Linked DNA regions of Homo sapiens. The protein of the gene in region 7 purifies or fractionates together with the protein of the main gene of each other region. This does not show direct contact. Each region holds a gene or a part of one and is shown on either strand. Other genes may lie near its edges.

Region 1 (3,500 bases), on a different chromosome or scaffold from region 7:
CCTCACATGGTATACCTTTCAGGTTCCACTATGGAAGAGTAATTTTCAAGTTCTCTGCCATTTTTCTAAAATTGTCAACATTTCCAGGTACTCTGGTAAATTTGTTTTAAGGAAAAGGAAGCTTAAAATGTGATAATTTCCTAATCAACACTTCGGTACTGCAAATCAAATCCTTAAAGATTTACCTTCATCATACATTTCCTCTATCAAATAGGCCTCTGCTCGATCTTTCAGGGCATTCACATTGTCAGGTTCCATCTGTAAAACTTCAGAACAAACCCTAATAGCTTCAACAGGCTTCTCGTCCTAAAAGGAAATGTGAGACAAGGATTTATGGTTGGTATTCCACATGTTGAGTTTTCACATTTCTGGGAACAAGTCAACTGTTACCTTAGAAAAGCAGTGGCAAATCCTCTCCTTTGAACGAACTGTATATTCAGCAATGCTTGGCTCTGTTTTCATGACAGATTCATATTTGCTGGTAGCATCTGTGTATCTAAGAAATGAGCAAATCATGATAAGAAATGATGACATTTGATTTCCAGAGCTGTAGAAAGGCTCCTCCCCTCTTCACCATGTGTTGCTTAATCAATCCAATTGGATGAGCCCATGGCTTCAGATTCGGCTTTTCCCTTATTAATCTAGAGTCCCATAGAAGGTACACTCCATAATTAAGAGTTAGGAAATAAAAACATATGACCATAGGAGATGCAGATGGACAGAACAAAGCATACCTGTGAGTATAAGTACCAATCAAACCAGAAGAATTTCCTTACAGAAACATTGCTCAGAATTCCAAACCTGAGTAAAACACCCTGTTGAAGTCTGACTTACACTGAGCACCTTGAACAATACAGAGATCAAGTTTTATTTCTTGGTCAGTAAACACTTCCATGAAAATAATGGAACCCATTACGTGCCATTTTATATAATTAATGTCAGTATTTACAACAAAGTACAACGTAGTTCACACAAAAGGTACCTGATTAAATTCCCAACTGTATAAGCTTTCTAAGAATAAAAGCTATTTCAGCATTTTCTTTAAACCAGTAAAAAGTACTAATCCTGTTATATACTCAGTTATTTCCCTCAACAATAGTAAAGTAAAAAATATGTTTCTATGCCATGGTGGCACACTATTCCCAAAGTGCTACAATCTTCATATGTAAATATGCCAATGTATTAAAACACAGGCTTAACTAAAACATTTAAAATAAAAGCCAGCTTCTCTATCATCCTCAGCAAACTAACGCAGGAACAGAAAACAAAGCACTGCATATTCTCACTCATAAGTGGGAGCTGAACAATGAGAACACATGGACACAGGGAGGGGAACATCACACACGGAGGCCTGTGTGGGGCAGGCAGCAAGGGGAGGGAGAGCATCAGGACAAATAGCTAATGCATGTGGGGCTTAATACCTAAGTAATGGGTTGATAGGTGCAGCAAACCACCATGGCACACGTTTACCTATGTAACAAACCTCCACATTCTGCACATACATCCTGGAACTTAAAGAAGAAAACAAAAAAGCCAGCTTCTGGGAAAGTGGAATAGATGTATTTGTCCCAAGTGCTCCAGCTAAGCACAACTAAAAAACCCTAGAGATTATATGTATATTTTTTAAAATAGAAAACTTTCAAAGGAGGAAAAGAGACAGACTAGCTAGTGACTCAGGACCTGAGGAAAACATGGTAAGACGTTCCCTGGGTTCTTTTTTTTTGTTTCATATATCCCAGACTTGGAGCTGAAGATTCCAGCAATGCAGAAACGCCAACAGGTACAGAACGACAATAACAAAAACCTGCAGAAGTCTGCTCTGTCTAGCCAGAGGACCTGAAAAGGACAGACTTGCAAACAGAAAACATTTTTTTTAGAGACGGAGTTTCGCTCTTGTTGCCCAGGCTGGAGTGTAATGGCACAATCTCGGCTCACCGCAACCTCAACTTCCCGGGTTCAAGCGATTCTCCCACCTCAGCCTCCGCAGTAGCTGGGATTACAGGCATGCGCCACCACGCCCGGCTAATTTTGTATTTTTAGTAGAGACAGGGTTTCTCCGTGTTGGTCAGGCTGGTCTCAAACTCCCAACCTCAGGTCCTTCAATGGATAAATGGTTAAACAAACTGCAGTAAATCCATACCATGGAAACTACTCAACAGTAAACAAGGAGGAATTATTGATACAATATGGATAAATCTCCAGACAATTCGAATGAGGGGGAAAAAAGCCCATCCTGCCAGCTGTGGTAGCATGCATCTGAAGTCCCAGCTACTCAGAAGGCTGAGGCAGAAGGATCACTTGAGTGTACTATGACTGTATCTGTGAACAGGTGGGCAACATAGTGAGATTGTCTCAAAAAAAAAAAAAGCCAATCCCAAAAGTTTATACATTGTATGATTCTATTTATGTAACATTCTTAAAATGACAGAATTCTACAAGTGAATAGATTAGTGGTTGCCACAAGCTAAGGAAGGGATAGGAACAAGAGGGAAGTAGGTGTGGCTATAAGGGCAACATGAGGTGTCCTTGTTGGGATGGAATTATTCTGTATCTTGACTGCACCCACGTCAATATCCTGATTGTGACAATGTACTATAGTTTTGCAAGGCGTTATAGTCTGCAAGATGTTGGGGGAAACCGAGTGAAGCATTCTCATGATGGCAACTTACAAAGCTACTAAAAGTAGAGGAATTGGAGCCTATTTTCTATTAGGCAGTTTTGTCTGCAGTGCCCTCTACTCTTTTCAGTCCTCCTGCCCAGCCTATAAACCCCCTACAAACAACACTCACACAGACACAGCCTCTTACTTCTGTCCACTTTTACTTATTCTTTAGGATTAGGATTTAAATATCTATCACCTTCTCTAAAAAAAAAAGCTCCTCTTTTACTCCTTGCCTTTACCATCCTGGTTTGGAGTAAATACTCCTCTTTGGTACTCCAATTATCCTATGTACATTCTATCACTTTGGTATCATATTGTCTTTTAATAATCAATTCATATATTTGTCTCCCACGCAATGCTATAAACTTCTTAAGAACAAAAACTATTGTCAAGTTTAAGTCTGCACCCTCAGTACATAGCTCAGCCTGATATAGGAGATAATAAATATTTGGTATAGTACAAGTAATTCTGCTGGTAAGGATACTACACAGTTACTATTATTTATATTCTTCCCTATTCCAAAAATGTCCAATTCTGGTAGTTTTGCTAAGGCCCAGGGCTATCTAGAATACCCCACCCTCAATGGCTGAGAAGTAAAAGAGCAGTTCTGTAGTTCACTTGTGCCCACAGCCCCGCACATAAGGAATGGCTGGACAGTTGGAACAACCATATTCTCACCTGCCATCTCTGATGAGCTCTTCAGCTGACTCAATCAGCTTATTAAGTTTCTTTACTTGTTTATAGTGTGCAAAACACCTTTTATGATCCTGGTCAAGTTTAAGACATTCCCGAACTTCACTGTTCATGTATTTAAAAAAGGAAAATACTCCATGTCAAA
Region 2 (3,500 bases), on a different chromosome or scaffold from region 7:
AAACTCACACCTTTTGTTCTTTGACCTAATGTCTTCACATATGAATATTATCTAGATTATACTAAGCCGGTAAATTCATTCTGGGCTCCTCAATCAATCTTTTGTTTGACTTTTCTGTACATAGTTAAAGGCAGTCATTTTCTCATCATCTATGACAAATTCCTAACTGCACGGTTTCATTTGACAAAGTGGATTTATAAAAATTGGTGAGAACAGATAAGTGCCTATATTTCTAAAATATATAGTATCAGAAGAGTGTCATGGCTTGAATAATCCTAAACTATAAATGTGCAAGAACTTATTGCTATTTACCTATGTGATGGATATTTTTCTCCATATTTTCTTTTCCAGTTGTTTATGTTACTTTTTTTTTTTTTTTGAGGCGGGTTCTCACTCTGTTCCCCAGTTTGGAATGCAGTGGTATGATCGTGGCTCACTACAGCCTTGACCCTCGGAACTCAAGTGATCCTGTCGTCCCAGCCTCCCAAGTAGGTGGGACAATAGGCACATACCACCAAAGCTGGCTAATTTTTAAAGTTTTTGTAGAGACTGGGTCTCACTGTTGCCCAGGCTGGTCTTGAACTCCTGGCCTCAAGCAATCTTGCCTAAGCCTCCCAAAGTGCTGGGATTACAGGCATGGGGCACCACGCCCAGCTTATGTTACTATTAAAATTAATTTTTATCTCCTGAGAACCTGATAACTTGCAGTTGGAGTTACATTTCAAAAGATACCTTGGAATTTAAACTTCATTAGTAAACTGTAAACTGATTGATCTGGGATAATCTCCAAATGGTATCAAATCACTTCAGATAGAGGTGGGTGGAAAGTTAATTGCCTTAAGTTAAAATGTAGTACTCCTCTCTGGAATTGCAGTATTACTGTGCTAATTAGTTTAAAAGTTCTTCACATACACACACACACACACACACACACACACACACACAAATACAAATACCTTTAATTTTTTTTTTTTATTTTTTGGTAGAGACAGGGTTTCACCATGTTGGCCAGGCTGGTCTCGAACTCCTGACCTCAAGTGATCTGCCTGCCTTGCCCTCCCAAAGTGCTGGGATTACTGTGGCGAGCCACTGTATCCGGCCACAAATACCTTTTAAATATATGAAAGACTCAACCTCATCCATAATAAAAGAAATGCAAGTTAAAATTACATTAAAAGGCTGAGCATGGTGGCTCACGTCTGTAATCCCAGCACTTTGGGAGGCCGAGGCAGGCAGATTGCTTGAGCTCACGAGTTTGAGACCAGTCTGGCAACATGGCGAAACCCTGTCTCTACCAAAAATACAAAAAGTTAGCTGGGTGTGGTGGCACACACCTGTCGTCCCAGCTGTTCAGGAGGCTGAGGTGGGAAGATCGCTTGAGCCTGGGAGGTGGGGGTTGCCGTGAGCTGTGATTGCACCACCGCACTCCAACCTGCGTGACAGAGTGAGATCTTGTCTCAAAAAAAAAAAAAAAAACCAAACTCAAAAATCTACATTAAAAATGATAAACTTTATTCACTTTTTAGATTGATACAGATAAAAAGTTCAATAACTTAGGGAGAGTATGGAGATACAGGTATTCTTTTTTTTTTTTTTTTTTTTTTTGAGACGGAGTCTTGCACTGTCACCCAGGCTGGAGTGCAGTGGCGCATCTTGGCTCACTGCAATCTCTGCCTCCCAGGTTCACGCCTTTCTCCTGCCTCAGTCTCCCGAGTAGCTGGGACTACAGGCATGTGCCACAACACCTGGCTAATTTTTTGTATTTTTTTTAGTAGAGACAGGGTTTCACCGTGTTAGCCAGGATGGTCTCAATCACCTGACCTCATGATCTGCCCGCCTCGGCCTCCCAAAGTGCTGGGATTACAGGCGGGAGCCACTGCGACCGGCCTGAGATACAGGTATTCTAATACATTGCTGGTTGGCATATAAGTTGACACCACTTACGTGGAGGACAATGTAATATTATGTGAATAAATTCACATACCCCTTGAGCCAGCAATTCCATTTTTAGGACTTTATCCTGTAGAGATATACTGGCTTGATACAAAGACTTAGGTATAAGAATTTTCATTGCAGTATTGTTTATATTAGCATATGACTAGAAACAAGCTAAATGTTCATCGTAGCCATACAGTGAATATAATGCCTGTTAAAAAAGAATGCAGTACATCTAGAAGCACTGAAATGACATTGGTAAGTAAGAAGGAAGGTACAGGACAGTGTGTATAATACACCACAGTGTGTATTAAAAACACAGAGAGATACTTGGCATGCTTGTATAGGCAGTGACTATCATGGGAAAGGTAAATAGCTGGTAATGTGGTTGCCTCTGAAGAGGGAGGGAGATTAATTGGAGATCAGGGATAGGAGATCAGACTTGTAACATTGAACTATTTGAATTATTTTTTTCACATACATGTAGTACCTTTGCAAAATACATTTTTGACACTTTTTAATAAACTGATTAATATTATGAAATATCAAATTATTTTTTACTTAAGTTGGATCACAAGGACGAGTCATAAGTTTTGAGGTACGAAAAGACCACCATGATCTGGCTAAGAAGAATTACAAACACTGGCGTGATTCATGGAAATTAAGTCATGTAGAAGAGTGGCCAGACAATGTGGATTTTATTCATAAGGACATTTCAGGAGCAACCGAAGACATAAAATCTTTAACATTTGACGCAGTAAGTTTTCTAACGTGGGTCCTGTGTTATTACTTTGACTATAAAGAAGATAGGGGTCAGGCTTCTTTTGTATGGGCAAAGGTCTTCCTTCGTTTGCTTCATGTCTATCTCTAGGGATTGAAAGAATATTTTCGTTTCATGCCTTTTAATCTCATGGTGGGATTTGGGACAGAGAGACATACTGAGTTACCGAGTTGGGTGCTGAAGTTGTCATTGAATGTGGGGTAATGACTGAAAGCTAGGACCAAAGACTAGTTGAGCATCATGAACCTCAGCATTTCTAGGATGAATCATACTTTGGAAGCAGCATTGGAAGCATATTGAACCCGGCACCTAACCTGAACTGTGAGATTTGGGGGAATAAGTAGCTTCCATTTGACAGGGAATAGGCAGAAGGCATCTTTAGTTAGTTGAAGTCAGGATATCAAGGGGAGTGTGTTCATTGAAGATGTCGAGGACAGAGGTGTTTATCATGAACAAAGCTCCAGAAAGTGGAGCAGAGACATTGTGAGGAAGAGAAACACTGGGAAGTTGACTTAGGGAAAAGAAGCAGAGAAGATGAAAGTAAAAAGATAGATGACAAGAGAGGATACATTAAGCTGCGATCAAACATGGTGGAGATCTGGGACATGGAAGTATTTGCTGGCTGAAGAGTTTCAGAATTCCTTGGTGATGCCACTTCACAGTTCATAGCTTCACACTATGGACTGAGGCCTTGGTTAGGAGTCTTTCTTCCTTTCCTTAATTGGCTGCTGGAAGGATGGACTGTTTTGGTGAGAAATGAAGCAAAGTTCAAAGAGGAGAGAAA
Region 3 (3,500 bases), on a different chromosome or scaffold from region 7:
AAACTGAAAAGTATGTAAGTTGCATATGCTAAATTTATGTATTTAGGAGTGAAAGAACCAGTAATCCAGAACACAGTATATTTGTGTTCTGAATATTCACAATTTAAAATGCTTTGTTTTAAAAACAGTTGGCTAGCTGGGTGAGGTGGCATATGCCTGTAGTCTCAGCTAATAGGGAGGCTGAGGCTGAAGGATTGCTTGAGCCCAAGAGTTTGAGTCCAGCCTTTGCAACATAGCAAGACCCTACCTCTAGAAAAAGCAAAGGAAAGAAAAAAAATACGGATAACTCAAATTTACTTTTAGGAATCTATAAAAGGGAAACAAAAACATGTCCACACAAAGACATGTACCTGAATGCTTATAGCAGCATTATTTATAATAGCCCCAAACTGGAAACAATCTGAAAGCACCATAAATTGGTGAATTAAACAAAATGTGCTATATACATTCAATGAGGAACTATTTAGCAATAAAAGGACCAATTTGTGAAACATGCTACACCATTGATGAACCTCAGAAACTATGCTAAATTAAAGAAGCCAGATGTAAAAGACTATATATTGTATGATTTTATTTATGTGAAATGTCTGGAAAAGGCCAGTATATAGAAAAAGAAAGCAGATCTTTCTTGCCTAGGACTTGAGGTGGGAGCGGGGATTAGCTACAAATAAGAACTAGAGAATTCTTTGGAATGATGGAAATGTTCTATAACTGGATTGTGATGATGGTTATACAGCTCTATCAATTTACTATAATCAATTGAATTGTATTTGTACAATAGGTTAATTTTATATATGTAATAAATCTTTTTAAAAATAAAATTTCTCTATAGTTGAATCATTTGAAAACAAAAACCACAGAACTACAGAAATTTAAAATTGGATTCTGAACCACTCTCTAAAGTTTTAGGTTTAGTCTTGAATAGTTTAGTGGATGTCAACAAAAATTTGTGTTAAGAGATTTAAAAGAAAAGATTTTCAATAACACATCCTCATTTATTCTAGTTTTCTAATTTTTCTTTTTTTATGCTTTCCTTATTTTGTTATTGCATATGATTTATTCAGTAACTTCAAATATTAAAAGGTAGTGTTTAAATGATAAAACTTGTATTTATTAATCTTTATACTAGTTCTCTTCTGTTCTTTAACTTATATATTTAGCTAGCTGGATTTTTTTTAATTCACTGTGTGTTCTAAAAACATGTAAGTAAATTTGATTTTTGTGAATTAAAACTGTTTAAAAAATCTCAGAATCTCATTATTTGATAACTGAAGTCTTGCTGTAAATCTGGATTTTTACATATTAGATCTCCTTGGATGGAGTAAGAGTTATTAAAGTATTATCATGTTTTTTTCTTTGCAATCTGAATTTTTCTCCAGTGTTTCTTCTTTTGGAAACTTTTAGTCAACCTTAACTAATTAGTGGGAATCATTGTTATAGATAGTATTCCAAACACATATTTGGTTTGGGACTGCAAACTGGTTGACTGGTTAGTTGTAAAATAATAGCAGTCTTGCTAAATCATAGGCAAATGTTGCTTCTCTGGTGCGTTTTTTGATCACACAAAGTGATGACGATGTCTAGAAAACATTTTGAATAGCAGAGGGAATCCAATTGGATATTAAACATTTCCATTAGCGTTCAAAATGTACATGATTAAGAACTGACCATATAGTTAATGTGACATTACTTATAATTTTATGTGCTAGACAATGCAAGTGATACTTGCATAATAATGTATATTAAAGTGGCATGAATTTTGGTAGGATTTTTTTCTTTTTTTTGTTGTTTTTGAGACAGAATCAGTCTCCTGAGTAGCTGGGATTACAGGCGTGCGCCACCACGCCTGGCTAATTTTTGTATTTTTAGTAGAGACGAGGTTTCACCATGTTGGTCAGGCTGATCTCGAACTCCAGACCTCATGCTCCACCCACCTTGGCCTCCCAAAGTTCTGGGATTATAGGTGTGAGCCACTGTGCCCAGCCTAGGATTTTTTTCATTCATTAGAGTAGCTTCGTTCTTTGTCTGAGCTGCATAGTTGACTGTTTAATAGTGTCTAGGAAAACCTCAAAGCTGCATTGGAGTCTTTTTATCAGCTTTGGTAAGTTACTTCAGACTTTGTATGAATCTTCTCAGAGACTTTGTAATTATGACCGAATTGCCCTTTTTGGCAGAGGAGGAAGAGGTTTTCCAGAAAGCCAAACCCATGATGTAATAAATTAAAACATTATTCTTTCTTTTCATGAATTCATTATGGGTGCAAGTATTTAAATTTTGTCTTATAAGAGGCTAGATTGGGCAGGCTGATTTACCCAGTTTACTTAACTCAGTTAAATAATTATACTCCCTTAAGTCTATGGGATGAAGGATAAAATTATTTAAATAATTTAAGCATTGGTTGAGTCACTTTGGTCATGACCTTGAGCTACATATTATTCTATCATTAAAAAAAAAATCTGCCATTACCTTTTTAACATTTGGAGTTATAATTATACTACTAAAATTTATAAAAGGGAAATTTGGATGAGCTGCTTATGAAAAGATCTTGTCCTGCTTATACTTGTCATTCTACAAGGAATTTCCCTAACTGCTATTTGGATATATTGTTCAATACATATTTTGGCAATTTTCAGATTATTAGGTCTCTCTTGATCTCTCCAGATTTCTATTCATGGATGAAGGTAAAAATTTTAGATATCACTTGAGACCCTGTTAGATGAAATAGAGTAGATATATACCTTTTAATGGAAGAAGCCAAATGCAGAATAAGACGTAAGCAAAACTAAGTTTCTTTAAAGTATGCTGTGTGTTAGTGGCATTTTAAATTGTTAAATCTCTCATATATGTATATGTGTGATTATATTTTACATTGTTTTTGCTTCTGCCTTTTTCTCTGTACCGATACTCAAGACACCTTTTTTAGTTTTGATTTAGAAGGACTTTAGGAATTAGTTCATTCCCTTCATTCACTAAGCATGAATACCTACCATTTTCAGCCCTGTATGCATGAGCAGTGCAAAATAAATATATTTCCTGCCTTCAAATCACTCACTGTTTGGAGATATTAGAATCTCCTAGCTTAATCTGTTGGATTTTTCATAGTTTTATGATTTTTAGATTCTTTTCCTGCTTGTTTCTTGATCTGTATTGACCCCTTAAAAGATCACCATACTGTTGTTTTTTGAGTTTTAGTAGAACATTTCTTTCATAGTGGAAAATGTTGTTTCAAATATAATCTTTTGTGGGTTAAATATTACTTAGTGGAACCCTTAAGCAAAGGGTCAAAAAGTCACTATATTGTTGCCTGAGGTGGACTGTTCACAAGAGACAGAAATAACCCATATAGAGGCCTTACGTGTCAAAGTTTACAGCTCTTGATTTCAGTCTTCTTACAAGCATTGAAATTAATGCTAAGATGTGATATGCCTAAAAAATTTGGTATCTAGAGTAGGAATGACAATCGTAGTGTCTAAAAAACCATTTTTCATAGAATGTCCTCA
Region 4 (3,500 bases), on a different chromosome or scaffold from region 7:
AAAAAAAAAAGAAGAGAAACCAAAGTAAGAGTCTGGACCTTTGGTTCTTGGTGAATTCACTAGGAATTGCCCAGGACAAACTGATGCCCTCCTGGAGAAGATAAACAAGGGCTTCTGACTTCAAAAATGAGCCAACCAAGGAGAACCTCTATGTACCTTACCCTGGTAGGGGCACAACTGCTGACAAACAGAGCCATGTATCTAATTGTTAACTTCCCACAGCAACCTGTACAGCCCTCCAGAATGAAGAAGTTTAGTTAGCTTGTTATAAGGTTAAAAAAAAATCCAAGTTCTCATATCAGGTTTCATTAGGATGACCAATCATACATTCTTAAGACTAAAGACACTTGGACCTGGTCCTCTTCCTGGTAGACCAACTTTGAGCTGTTTAAAAAAAAAAAAACAAAAAAAAAAACAAAAACTGGGGTAAGTGGGAAATGCCCGGATGTTTCCCCTTCTCCAGCAGAGCTTGAAACAGTAACAGCAGCAGCTGCCGCCACTGAGCACTGGGCCTTCTGATCCTCACCTCAACCTGCCAGTGAAATTCCCCATTTTAGAGCGGGGCAGTCTCTGTAGTTAAGTAGCTTGCCCAAGGCCACAGTGACAGAGCTGGGAACATGAGATCATATCAACAAAGCAGCAGGAATGCACCTAAATCAGATAAGATGCTTAACATTTGGCAAATCTTCCACTTAATAAATGGAGCTTCAATACTGACATGATTCAGCAGCCAAACTGACATTTTTTAGGATAAGGTAAGGCGAGCGTGTTGCAGTATCATCTCCAATCAGCTTGTAGGAAGCCTCAACTCTTCCCTGCCCCTATGGCACTCTACTCTGAGGGTGAAGAGTGCTTACTTGTGATCAGAGAATTCATGATGACATGGGTAGCTTTAGCCTTCACCACTGGGACCTTGTCCACACTGTCAATGGCTGATGACAGGGTCATGGCAGGGGAGGGTAGACTGGCCTCTCCTTCCTCCACCTGTTCAAGAGAGGTACAGTACAGAAGCACTTAGGCAGGGCAGGGGAGTCACACACCTAAACTTACTCCTTTGGGGAGGAAGTTACTGAAATAACATTAATCTGGTAAGTGAGGAAATCATTGAAGGGAGGAGTTGGTCATCTCCACCCAGCTAGATAGGTATTATCCATAGAGACAACAAAGAAAGACATTAGGTGAATAGTTTACATTTATAAAGGTGGGAAAGCCAGAATTTGAAGCTCTGACGTCTACTACCTTCCCAGACTATGATCTTCCGATATACTATAGTACTATGCCCTAAGAATGCAGAAGAAATGCTTATTACGAAGCACTGACCACATCCCAGGCACTATGCTAGATCTTAATTGATGAGAGCACTGGCTAAGTGGTTCTGACCCTGTGCCAGCCATTAGAACAGACTGCCGGGCTCCACCTCAGAGTTTGATTCAGTAGGTCCCTGTTAGTCTGGGGTGGAGTTCAAGAATTTCTTTCTAATAAATTCCCAGGTGTTACTGATGCTGCCGGTCCCAAGACCACACCTTGAGGACCACTGCTCCCAAGGTTCAAGTAATGGTCTTTTGAAACAAACAAAAAAAATCTACTTAGCTCCTCATTTTCAACCTGCAAGAGCTGGCAGCCTCCACCTTCTGCAATCGAAACACCTGATACCTTGCTCAGGCCTAGCAGGGAGGAGAGAACAAGACTTATTCTTTATTCTGTGCTTGTCTGGAAGAACTGAGAAGAAAGTAAGATGGTTGAAAAGGGGGGACAGATAAAAAGTAATGAAAAATGTTGTATCCTTACTACAAAACAGAATTTATACCTTTAAGCTGTGACCTTGAGTAAAACTTGAGCCTGTTTCCTTACTGGGAAGACGGTTGATTCCTAACATGGGGAGAGTTAGGGCAAATGAATAGGATCGCATGCAATGAGTCAAGCGGAGCTCTCCTTTGGAGCAGCTGTTCCAAGCCATCAGCTGTTCCAGCTGAGGCCCAGAAGAAATCTGGAAGCCCGCTCATCCCTTGCCTTGTGGAGCCATCAGCAGGGTGTGTGGCCTGGCAAGCACCACCAGAAGCCCTGCTCACCTCCTGCTCTGGACCCTAAAGCCCATTGCTCTGACATCACAGGCAAGCTGCAGCAGGCCTTTTCTCCCTGCACTTTTGCTACTTGTTACATGGAATACTCTCCCTGAACAACTGACTGGGTCATATTTCAGTAGATAATTGATAGAGGGAATATCCCCCAGAGCTGTAGGGGCACTTTCTTAGAAAGGAGCTGTCTGCCCTGAAAGTCTGTTGGAGGCGGGGGGAAAAACACTCCTTAGAAATTATCAAATATGGCTCTACTAAGAGAAAGTTAAGCAGGGAGCCTGCAGTCATAATATCAGCTACACAGCTAATACACAATGTGCCAACCCTTTACATCCCCTGACTGAATCCCCACAACACCTCTATGACATAAGGTATTCCCAACTCTCAGAGAGAGACACTGGGGCTCAGGGTAAAGTTGTGTGCCCAAGGTCTTGCTAGGGCAGACCACCTGGGACTCACACCCAGGCCTATTTCAGTGGACCCTTACTGTGTACTGCCTGTCAGGCCCTGAGCTACCATGTGGCTCAAAGTTCAGAGAAACTGTAGCTACAGGTTAAACAGCCTTACGTGAACTTGGCGGGCCTACTTTATTCAGGCAACAGTCTAGCCTTTCTTGTATTCTTGGTGGCTGGAGAGTCAGAGGGGAGAGAGTCCCTGAGGTCGGGAAGCAGAGGCTCCAATAATGCGAACCTACGAAACTAGACTGCACGAAGGACTGTGAGGTATGTTCGGAAGGGCCTTAGGAAGGAGGCAGTTCTTACAGAGGATGGCCATGGGCAAAGGCAGCTGAGGCTGGAGGTACAGCATGAGGACAGGTACAGCATGTGTTCAAGAAAGGGCCAATTTTTTTCCCCAATCACAAAATGAGCAGTTTTTGGGAATCTATGCCAGGCCATCGGCTGGATCCTGCAGATAAGAGTACAAACCTAGACATGGCCCCTGTCCTCAGGAAGCTAATGGAGGGCGAGAAAGCAATGCAGGGATGACGACGGGGACCATGGTACCGTGGGGAGCTCAGAGGGAGAGGTGATGGCCTTATCAGGAGGACGGAGATGTCAGGAAAACTGTCACAGAAGAGACTTTTGAGCTAAGACTTAAAGGATACCAGTTTTCAGGCAAATGGAGTGGGAGAAAAGGTGAGAGGACAGGATGTGGATGGCAAACATCCTAAACAATCAGGGCAGTGTGAGCCAAAAACTGACAGGCAGAAAATACGCTGCTAAGTGCAAGAATTTTAGGTAACTTGCACAGTTCAAGCACTGGGTAGGGGAGCTGGAGAGATGCAGGCAGGACTTAGATCACATGGACTGTGGATCATGCTGAGCTTGGATTTAGCTCTGTGGGGAATATGAAGAGTCTCAGGAGCAGACAAGGCCATTCTAGTTTTGAATTAAAAAGAAAAAAAAAAGGAGGGAGATTTAAAAA
Region 5 (3,500 bases), on a different chromosome or scaffold from region 7:
GAAATAAAAAAGTCATTAAGTTTTAAACTGTGTGTTGTTCTGAGAAGTGTGATGAAATCTTGCACCATCCTGCTCCAAGTGGAATGTGAACCATCTCTTTGCCCAGCGTATCCACGCTGTATAAACTACTCTTCCATTAGTCATCAACATTATCTACTCTTGACATCCAACAATCAACATCATGGCTCAATGATCCAGGATGAACCAAAGCAGATGATTCTCCTTCTGTTACATCATTAGGTCAGTAGTAGCCTAACACTATGTCACAATGCCTTCATCATTCACCTCAGTTCATCTCACCAAGTAAGCATTTTATCATCTCATTATCACCACAAAGGTGAGTATAGAACAATAAGATATTTTGAGAGACCACATTCACATTTATCACGGTATATTGTTATAATTGTTCTACTTTATTATTAGTTGTTGTTAATCTGTTACTATGTCTAATACATAAACTTTATCAAAGGAATATATGTACAGGAAGAAGCACAGTATATACAGGTTTGGAACTATCTGTGATTCAGGCACCCACTAGGGGTCTTGCAACACATTCCCTGCAGATAAGGGGGGACTACTGCACACATACATATAGTTATATACATACAATTAGCTTATGTTTTTAAGAAGTGGAAAGATAAACCAAAACTTTCTTAAAAAACAAACAAAAAAAAAAGGTAAAAAGGTTGCCTGTTGGGGAAGAAGTAAAGAGGGAAATATATAAAAGCTAGATTCCCTGATAATACCTTGTTCTATACTTTCCACTTTGGAATCATGTAAATACAAAATAAAAAACAAAAGGTTGTGTTTTTTTTTTTTTAAAAAAAGCAATCCCTTTAAAAACAATGAAACTATACAAAGCTGAGACAAAACACACAGAGAATTATTTCACATGAATTTTAAAATCCACTAAGTTGTGGGACATACCCTAAAGGACAGAAAGAAATGCAGATATAATTGCTTTCAGTAATCAGACTGTTGGTATTCTTATTATAAAACTGTCATATCTGTACTAAGGGACAAAGCAAATGAATAATTATGATAGTATGGCATGAACGAAGGTACAAACAGATGTCAGATAAGAAAAAAAAATCTATACTCCTGGACTTGCATTGAAAATATCAGTATGAACTCAAGTATTACCTCTTTAAAAAATACATGTTTTCTCAGACTTGCCACTTAAAAAGCTCAGAAACAATAATCAACCCAGTATCTATGAATACTCATAAGGCCAAATTGTGCTCTCTAAATACCATTTGGCCCATTCAAGTTCTGACTCAAGAAACGTAAAGATGAGCCTGAAACATTTTATCATACCAGATAGAGGGCTTCTCAGAAGGATGCAACAGTTAACCTGAAGAGGTTCCCAAAGACCAAAGGTTGGACAATTTCAATCACAACTTACATGAACTGAACTACATCAATGTTTTAAGTCATAAGTTCAAAACAGTATGCCAGTGGAACACACATGTGTATGCATGTGTATGCACACACGCACAATACACACACACACACACACACACACACCTGAAAACAAAAAGTAAACAAAATACAAAAAAAACAAAAAACAAAAAAAACCCTAGGTCACCTTTATTGGACATAATAGAACAAACATTATTTTGAAAATTGGTCAATAAAGGCAAATAATCAGGTAATTATCCTACTTTTCCTATGCAAAATGTACTCCATGGTAACAAATGGTTGACACGTGGAAGTATTACTTTTTAGAAGCATTACATATAATAAGTGAAGAATGACAGAATTACAATAGCAACGCTTTGCAACACAAACAAAATACTGGATCTAAGCTATGATGTCAATGGCTAGTAATACCACAAAAAGATTAACATTGTATACGTTTTGATGAAATTAAACACCTACTATGAAATATTCTTGTTCCCTGCTCCCCAAAATCAAATATGAATATGGTCAAGCCTACAGACTGAACTCCCAGTTTACAGGAAATACACAAGGCAGAGAACACAGAGAGGGCAGAGAACACAGTAAATGAATGACAGCCTAAAGATGCAACCATTAAAATCCAGACTATGAGAAACTTAACAAGACCATCAACCTGGATTTTTCAACAAATAAACCACAGAAAATACTTTTCTTTTTAAAAGGGGAAACCAACAGATTAAGAAACTTACTGACATATTAACCAACTACAATGCAGAGACTTATTCTGACCCTTACAAAGAACTTAAACAAAAGATATAAGAGACTCAGAAATTTCAACAGACTGTATTTTTATAAAACATAACCATAATACCATTACCCCACCTAAAACAAGTAACAGTAATTTTTTTATACCATTATCAATACCTTTATCTTTTACAGATGCATGATGAAATGTATGAAATGATATAATGTCTGGGATTTGCTTGAAAATAATCACAGTTGTGGGAGGAAGTAAGAATACAGACAAAACAACAAACAAGATTGGGCAGGAGCTGACCGTTGTTTAAGATGATCACAGATATAAGACGTTCTGACAAAGATTCTCTCCTTGACCAAACTCTCTTTTGTTTTTTCAATATATATTTATCGAATATATAGATAGATACACACACATACATACATATGCGTGCATGTGTGTGTGCGTGCATGTGTGTGTGCGCACATGTGTGAAGATAGGGTCTCCCTATGTTGCCCAGGCTAGTCTCAAACTCCTGGACTCAAGCAATCCTCCTGCCTCAGCCTCCCAAAGGCTACTCTGAACTCTCTTCTCAACTTGGCCCTAACTTTTGGACTTCTGTATTTGTCCCTGCATAGTCCAATTTTACCAAGAATCTTGCTTAAGTCAGTTTAGCCAGGATCCTCCCTTACCCATAATGTATCCTTTTAGTAATTTTTCATCCACTGCCCCGACCCTCTTCCTTGGTTATAAATTCCCACTTTTCCTTGCTGTATTTGGAGTTGGGCCCAATCTTTCTCCCCTACTGCAAAACTCCACTGCAGTAGTCTCTATGCTTATTGCAACAGTCCCTCTGAATAAAGTCTGCCTTAACATCTTTCAGCAAGAGTCATGAATAATCGTTTTCTTTAACCATTCATTACACTCATAATATTTAGCTGAAACACAAATTATTAGCTGTATTAATAATTAGGTTCATTTTAGAATCTGTGTTTATAAATCCTCCTTAGATGAACATGGCCAATTTACCATTCTAGCAGCTTCATCCAAGTCATCACAAGCAAGTATTTTAAGTCCACTGTCCGCTATCAGTGCCTTAGCATCATCGACTCGTGTACCTGTAAATGATTTATGCAAATATAAATGTTTTAAATACACACACAAAAGCATTTTAAAATGTTTGCCAAAACATGGTATAAGAATAAAACCTCAACAGAGGAGACTTCCATTATTTAGTATAAACACTTCTAAACCAAAGAAAACACTGTAAAAGCCCAGGTTATCTTATAAAATATTTTGCCTTACAATAATTCTGACTTGCTTAGTAATTCAGGCAAGTCAGAATTCAAGACAAATCACAACA
Region 6 (2,403 bases), on a different chromosome or scaffold from region 7:
GGATATCCAGGAAGGGCGATGGCACTTGTCCGAGGCTGGATGTGGAGGTAACCGTGATAGGGGCACAAGACTCTTAACAGTGTTGCCTCCAGCTCCACCTCCCCACCCGCCGTGTTAGGCCCCTCCAGGTCTGCAGGCCAGGACAGCAGGTGACAGGAAAGGCAGTCGTGCACAGGCGTAGGTGCCCAACTCTTAGGTTCGTCCTTGACCCCCTGCCAACCCCAGGCTCTTTCTCTGGTGTCTGCACCTCTGTGGAGGGCACGGAGGTGGCCAGGTCCTAGTCCTGCTGGGCCACCCCTTTTCCCAGTCACCGACTCAAGGACTTGGAGGCCAGAAGGGACCTTAGGGATCATCATGCTTTACTGATGGGGAAACTGAGGCCCAGAGAGGTCTGCCACCTAGAACCTGGCAGACCCAGCTCATCCTCCCTTCCGTTTGTGAAGCTGGGAAGCGCCTTGCCCAAGAATCAGCTCATCTCCTCACTGGCAGCCCCAGACCCTGACCTGATGCCCCACCGTCTCAGTTTCTCCATCTGCGAAATGGGTCTCACAGTCCCTGCTCTTCTTGCTTCCGCAGGCTTTTGGGGCATGTAGCGGACGGGTAGGCAAGAGGGGGCCTTACGGAGTGCGTGTATGACCAGCCTCTCTGACTGTCTGTCTGTCTCTCCGCCTTGCTCAGCTGGCCCGAGATAACTTCTTCCGCTGTGGTGTGCTGTATGAGGACTCCCTGTCCTCCCAGGTCCGGACTCAGATGGAGCTGGAAGAGGATGTGAAAATCTACCTCGACGAGAACTACGAGCGCATCAACGTGCCTGTGCCCCAGTTTGGCGGCGGTGACCCTGCAGACATCATCCATGACTTCCAGCGGGTGAGGCTGGCCAGGGCCTGGGGGTGGGGGGTGGGAGGGTGTCCCGGGGACTCAGGGCAAGGGGAGCAGGGATGAAAGGAGACTCCTCGGAGTACAGCAGGTGTCTACGGTTAGGCTTACCAGGGTCTTCAAGACACTGCTTTTCTCCTGTTAGCAACAATGGTTCTTGCTGAGTATGAAGCAGCCGAGGCTGATTTTCTCCTCAGCCTCCTGCCAGCTGCACGCTGGCTGTCATGGCAGGGCCAGTGCGTTGTATCGAGGGGTAGTACATTCACCATCGAGTGCATTGCGTGTACAGCTCAGCGGGTCTCTGCAGAGTGGGTCTCATGCGTATTCATGTAACCCCCATGGGTCCTGAGACAGGGCATCTCTCGCTGGGGTCCAGGCTGTCCCAGGAATGGCTGGCCCTCACAGGTTTCATAAATGCACAGCTGGGATGTTACCATGTTCCCCAAACCTCAGCTCTGTAAACATGAGAAGAAGCTTTATAACAACAGAGGCGTTTAGCAATCAGCTGCTATTTTCCTCTATCATGTGGCACCTTCTACAACAGGCTAAGAGAAGACCAGGAAAAGGGAGTGCCCGCCCAGGTATTGAGGAGTCTGGAGAGGACTCTGCTCCTGAAGGCCCAGGGTCCCAGGAAGGCATGGTGGGACTCCTGCCCCTGCTGGCCAAGCTGCTTTTTTTTTTGGAGACAGAGTCTCGCTCTGTCGCCCAGGCTGGAGTGCAGTGGCACGATCTCGGCTCACTGCAAGCTCCGCCTCCTGGGTTCACACCATTCTCCCGCCTCAGCCCCCCGAGTAGCTGGGACTACAGGTGCCCACCACCACGCCTGGCAAATTTTTTGTATTTTTAGTAGAGACGGGGTTTCACCATGTTAGTCAGGATGGTCTCGATCTCCTGACCTTTGATCCGCCCGCCTCAGCCTCCCAAAGTGCTGGGATTACAGGCATGAGCCACCGCGCCTGGCTGGCCAAAGCTTCTTGCAGCCCTGCCTGGGTCAGCTGTCACCTCCTGCAGAGACTGACCCAACCCCTTCTCCTGCCAGGGTCTGACTGCGTACCATGATATCTCCCTGGACAAGTGCTATGTCATCGAACTCAACACCACCATTGTGCTGCCCCCTCGCAACTTCTGGGAGCTCCTCATGAACGTGAAGGTGCGCAGGGGGTTGGGGGGATGTCTGCAGCATCCTGTCCCTCCCTTGCCCCCTGTCTCATGGAGGCTAGGTCTGAGGTACAGGAAGTTCCTGTGTCAGGGGTTGGGGGAGCAAGAGACATTGCTGGCACCTGGGCCCTGTACCCAGATTGGTCTCGCCTCTGCTATCCCCCTGCTTCCACATCTCCAGAGTCAATGCCCCGAGACCGGCTTCCTTAGTGTTCAAGGTTGTACCCTGGGTACGGACTCGTGCGCATGCCATTGCTCCTGGCAGCACAGGTGCAGGCACCGGGCACAGGCAGGAAGTGCCTGAGGACATCAGAAGGGCCAGCCCAGGGGCCTCTGGAGGAGGGAGGTGGGCTGGCATTTCGGGCGAGG
Region 7 (3,335 bases):
CCTTAGAATGGAAAGAGGAGGTTAGTACTGTTCTGTACCAAGTACTGTAACTTGGCACATTGACATGTAAGTTTAGGCATGTACTTACAGAAGATCTTATAAAAAAGACAGGCACAGTGGCTCATGCCTGTAATCCCAGCACTCTGGGAGGCTGAGGTGGGAGGAACACTTGAGCCCAGGAGTTCGGGGTTACAGTGAGTTATGATTGTGCCACCATACTGTAGCTTGGGTGACAGCGAAACCCTGTCTCTAAAAATACATGGAGAGGCCAGGCGCGGTGGCTCACGCCTGTAATCCTAGCACTTTGGGAGGCCAACGCGGGCAGATCACTTAAGGTCAGGATATCAAGACTAGCCTGGCCAACATAGTGAAACCCCATCGCTACTAAAAATACAAAAATTAGCCGGGTGTGGTGACGAGCAACTGGGGAGGTTGAGGTGGGAGTATCCCTTGAACCCACGAGACGGAGGTTGCACTGCACTTCAGTTTGGGTGACAGAGCAAGACTCTCTCTCTCAAAAAAAAAGAAATACATATAGATATAGATAGATGTATAGATAGATAGATATATAGAGAGAGACCAATCCTGTCTCTAAAAAAATATATATATGTTTATCTTAGATCTAATAAAGGCACATTGTATATGACTTACAGCTTTTATATTTACTAATATAGCTTCTATATGTCACGTACAGTGTGCCTTTATTAGATCTAACAGAAATGTTTTCTCCCCAAGTAATAGTAAATAGTTTGAAGCTATTTTAAGTTTCTAAAGTCATACATCTGACTTTAATAAGCACAAAAACTAAGTCTTCGTTTCTCACGTGTGGACTTCCCTGTAGGCCATCTCCCCGGTTGTTGTGCACAGCCACGAAACAAAAGAACAGTGGCCAGAACCTGGAAGAGGACATGGGTCAGAGTGAACAGAAGGCAGATCCTCCTGCTACAGAGAAGACCCTCCTGGAAGAGAAGGTCAAGTTGGAGGAACAGCTGAAGGAGACTGTGGTGAGGACTGTGAGGCTCCTGTGGGGGCGGGCTCGGCTGAACTGTTTCTCTCCTGGGCCACATAAAGGTTCCAGGTTTCATTGGTGACAGACTAAAGCCAGAGTTAAGCCGTTGTCCATGGCCTGCAGTGGGCCCAGGTGGCAAGTTACTGCCAAAGCAAAGACTAAAACCCAAATCCTGTGCAACTCTGGTTCTGGCAAGAGACTAATCTTTACACGCTGTTATTTGTCATTGAATGAAAACTTAAAATCATCTTTACAAATGAGGAATGCTCAGTATGGTTGTTTAGGCTGGGACTTAGGAGAGGAAGCAGAAAATTGCAAGTACAAGAGTTGGGAGCAGGAGTGTGGTTTTATGTGATGCTCTCATAGGCAGGTAGGAGTTTTATGAACTAGTAACATGGATTATTACTCCATGTGAAAACACATAGGTGGCACAAATCAAGTTCTTTAAGGATTTGAGAAAGACATCAAACCCTGAGTGCTGGCACCATTCCAAACCCGTTACATATGTTAATCCTGGCTGCCAGGTGCGGAGCCAGGGCTCGAACTAGAACCCCCTGGACTTGGAGCTCTTGCTCCTTGCCACTGTACAGTGATTACCTGAAGACTGAAAATGGATGCAGTATAGAGGCCCCCACAGAGCAACTTAGTAAATGTTAAAAAGAGAAAAGCTAGCTGGGCGCAGTGGCTTACCCCTCTGATAGCACTTTGGAAGGTTGAGGCAAGAGGATTGCTTGAGCCCAGGTGTTCAAGACCAGCCTGGGCAACATAGTGAGACTCCATCTCTAAAAAAAATTAAAAATTAGCTGGGCGTGGTGGTGCACTCCTGTAGTCCCAGCAACCCAGGAGGCTGAGGTGGGAGAATTGCTTGAGCCCAGGAGGTTGAGGCTGCAGTGAGCCGAGATTACACCACTTCAACCTGGATGATAGAGCAAGACCCTGTCTCAGAAAAAAAAAAAAAAGGCTCAGATGAGTGAGCTTACCGGAAGGTGGTGAGACATGAGGAATATACTAGAACTCAGATGATGATTACACAAGGAATGTTTGAACTGAGCCACCTCTGGGTAACACAGCATAGCAAAAGATCATGAGTGCAGCTTTTATTAAGCTTTCATTAAGCTGCCCTCCTTAGTCACATCTCAAAGGCAGTGATATTACTTCTGTTTTGACTTGTAGTTAGTTACACAGCCGTTTTCCAATCAAGCTCGCTTTCCTATGACTTTGTTCCATATTAATATAAATCTCCCGGCCAGGCATGGTGGCCCACACCTGTAATCCCAGCACTTTGGGAGGCCGAGGCGGTCGGATCACAAGGTCAGGAGATGGAGACCATCCTGGCTAACACGGTGAAACCCTATCTCTACTAAAAATACAAAAAAATTAGCTGGGCGTGGTGGCAGGCGCCTGTAGTCCCAGCTACTCGGGAGGCTGAGGCAGGAGAATGGCGTGAACCCAGGAGGCGGAGCTTGCAGTGAGCTGAGATCATGCCACTGCACTCCAGCCTGAGCGACATACAGAGCAAGATTCCGTCTCAAAAAAAAAGATATATATATATATATATATATATAAATATCCCTTTTTTTCTCTTTTAGGAAAAATATAAACGAGCTTTGGCAGACACTGAGAACTTACGGCAGAGGAGCCAGAAATTGGTGGAGGAGGCAAAATTATACGGTACTTTCAACATAACATGGTGTTGATTCCGGAAAGAAGATAATGGGGTGGGGAAGGGGAAGGCCATGCATACGGAAGTGTCAGAGAGCAAGGCTGTGGGGTGGGGGGTCCAGCTGTTGCATCCCCTGCATTTTTTTTTATGATGGCTCAACAGCAAAGGTGTCTGGAGGAGCAGAAATCAAGTAGCTGAGACTAGCATGAAGAATTGTAAATAGGTGTGTCCTCCCCCACGCAGAGACCTTGGTGGGAACCTGCAGCAGGTCAGCCTCTGATGCCCATCCCCTTAGCCCTCCGGAAGTAACACTGGCATCACTTCAGAACTCCCAGCATGCTATATGCATTGCCACCTTTGGATGTTTTTGTTACTGTCCTTCCCATTTTACAGTTGAGATCATTGAGGTTTAGTCACCTGCCACACATCACAAAGCTGGTACGTAACCCCAGGCTCCCAGCTCCACAGGCTGGTTGTTTGAGTGCTGGCTCTGGATCTCTGCGTGACTGACAGTGGGTATTAGAGATGTGGAACCTAAGGCTCGAGGGAGGGTAAATGGCCTTGCCTGGGTCAGACGGTGAGAGGCCACATGGAAACTAAGAGCTAGAGTCTCTGTCGCATTCACAGAGACTGAGGCGCTCATTGAAACACTTTTTTTCCTGG

Evidence for each region.
Region 1: the proteins of GRPEL1 (region 7) and DNAJC3 fractionate together in Homo sapiens (co-fractionation; one large-scale study listed by BioGRID). This does not show direct contact.
Region 2: the proteins of GRPEL1 (region 7) and TRMT61B purify together in Homo sapiens (co-immunoprecipitation; one large-scale study listed by IntAct). This does not show direct contact.
Region 3: the proteins of GRPEL1 (region 7) and DNAJB4 fractionate together in Homo sapiens (co-fractionation; one large-scale study listed by BioGRID). This does not show direct contact.
Region 4: the proteins of GRPEL1 (region 7) and KIAA1191 purify together in Homo sapiens (co-immunoprecipitation; one large-scale study listed by IntAct). This does not show direct contact.
Region 5: the proteins of GRPEL1 (region 7) and SUCLA2 fractionate together in Homo sapiens (co-fractionation; one large-scale study listed by BioGRID). This does not show direct contact.
Region 6: the proteins of GRPEL1 (region 7) and ITM2C purify together in Homo sapiens (co-immunoprecipitation; one large-scale study listed by IntAct). This does not show direct contact.

What each region holds. Positions count from the first base shown.
Region 1 is NC_000013.11:95,760,639-95,764,138, reverse strand, and holds part of DNAJC3 (dnaJ homolog subfamily C member 3 precursor), read right to left. Parts: intron 3,461-3,500; coding exon 3,341-3,460; intron 497-3,340; coding exon 391-496; intron 307-390; coding exon 186-306; intron 1-185. UniProt on the Homo sapiens protein: Involved in the unfolded protein response (UPR) during endoplasmic reticulum (ER) stress.
Region 2 is NC_000002.12:28,860,310-28,863,809, reverse strand, and holds part of TRMT61B (tRNA (adenine(58)-N(1))-methyltransferase, mitochondrial precursor), read left to right. Parts: intron 1-2,501; coding exon 2,502-2,692; intron 2,693-3,500.
Region 3 is NC_000001.11:78,007,939-78,011,438, forward strand, and holds part of DNAJB4 (dnaJ homolog subfamily B member 4), read left to right. Parts: intron 1-3,500. UniProt on the Homo sapiens protein: Probable chaperone. Stimulates ATP hydrolysis and the folding of unfolded proteins mediated by HSPA1A/B (in vitro).
Region 4 is NC_000005.10:176,351,765-176,355,264, forward strand, and holds part of KIAA1191 (putative monooxygenase p33MONOX), read right to left. Parts: exon of another isoform or gene 1,808-3,500; intron 1,665-1,807; exon of another isoform or gene 985-1,664; coding exon 858-984; intron 1-857. UniProt on the Homo sapiens protein: Potential NADPH-dependent oxidoreductase. May be involved in the regulation of neuronal survival, differentiation and axonal outgrowth.
Region 5 is NC_000013.11:47,945,774-47,949,273, forward strand, and holds part of SUCLA2 (succinate--CoA ligase [ADP-forming] subunit beta, mitochondrial precursor), read right to left. Parts: intron 3,256-3,500; coding exon 3,167-3,255; intron 1-3,166. UniProt on the Homo sapiens protein: ATP-specific succinyl-CoA synthetase functions in the citric acid cycle (TCA), coupling the hydrolysis of succinyl-CoA to the synthesis of ATP and thus represents the only step of substrate-level phosphorylation in the TCA.
Region 6 is NC_000002.12:230,874,942-230,877,344, forward strand, and holds part of ITM2C (integral membrane protein 2C), read left to right. Parts: intron 1-678; coding exon 679-867; intron 868-1,915; coding exon 1,916-2,026; intron 2,027-2,403. UniProt on the Homo sapiens protein: Negative regulator of amyloid-beta peptide production. May inhibit the processing of APP by blocking its access to alpha- and beta-secretase.
Region 7 is NC_000004.12:7,061,730-7,065,064, reverse strand, and holds part of GRPEL1 (grpE protein homolog 1, mitochondrial precursor), read left to right. Parts: exon of another isoform or gene 1-182; intron 183-841; coding exon 842-1,004; intron 1,005-2,598; coding exon 2,599-2,680; intron 2,681-3,335. UniProt on the Homo sapiens protein: Essential component of the PAM complex, a complex required for the translocation of transit peptide-containing proteins from the inner membrane into the mitochondrial matrix in an ATP-dependent manner.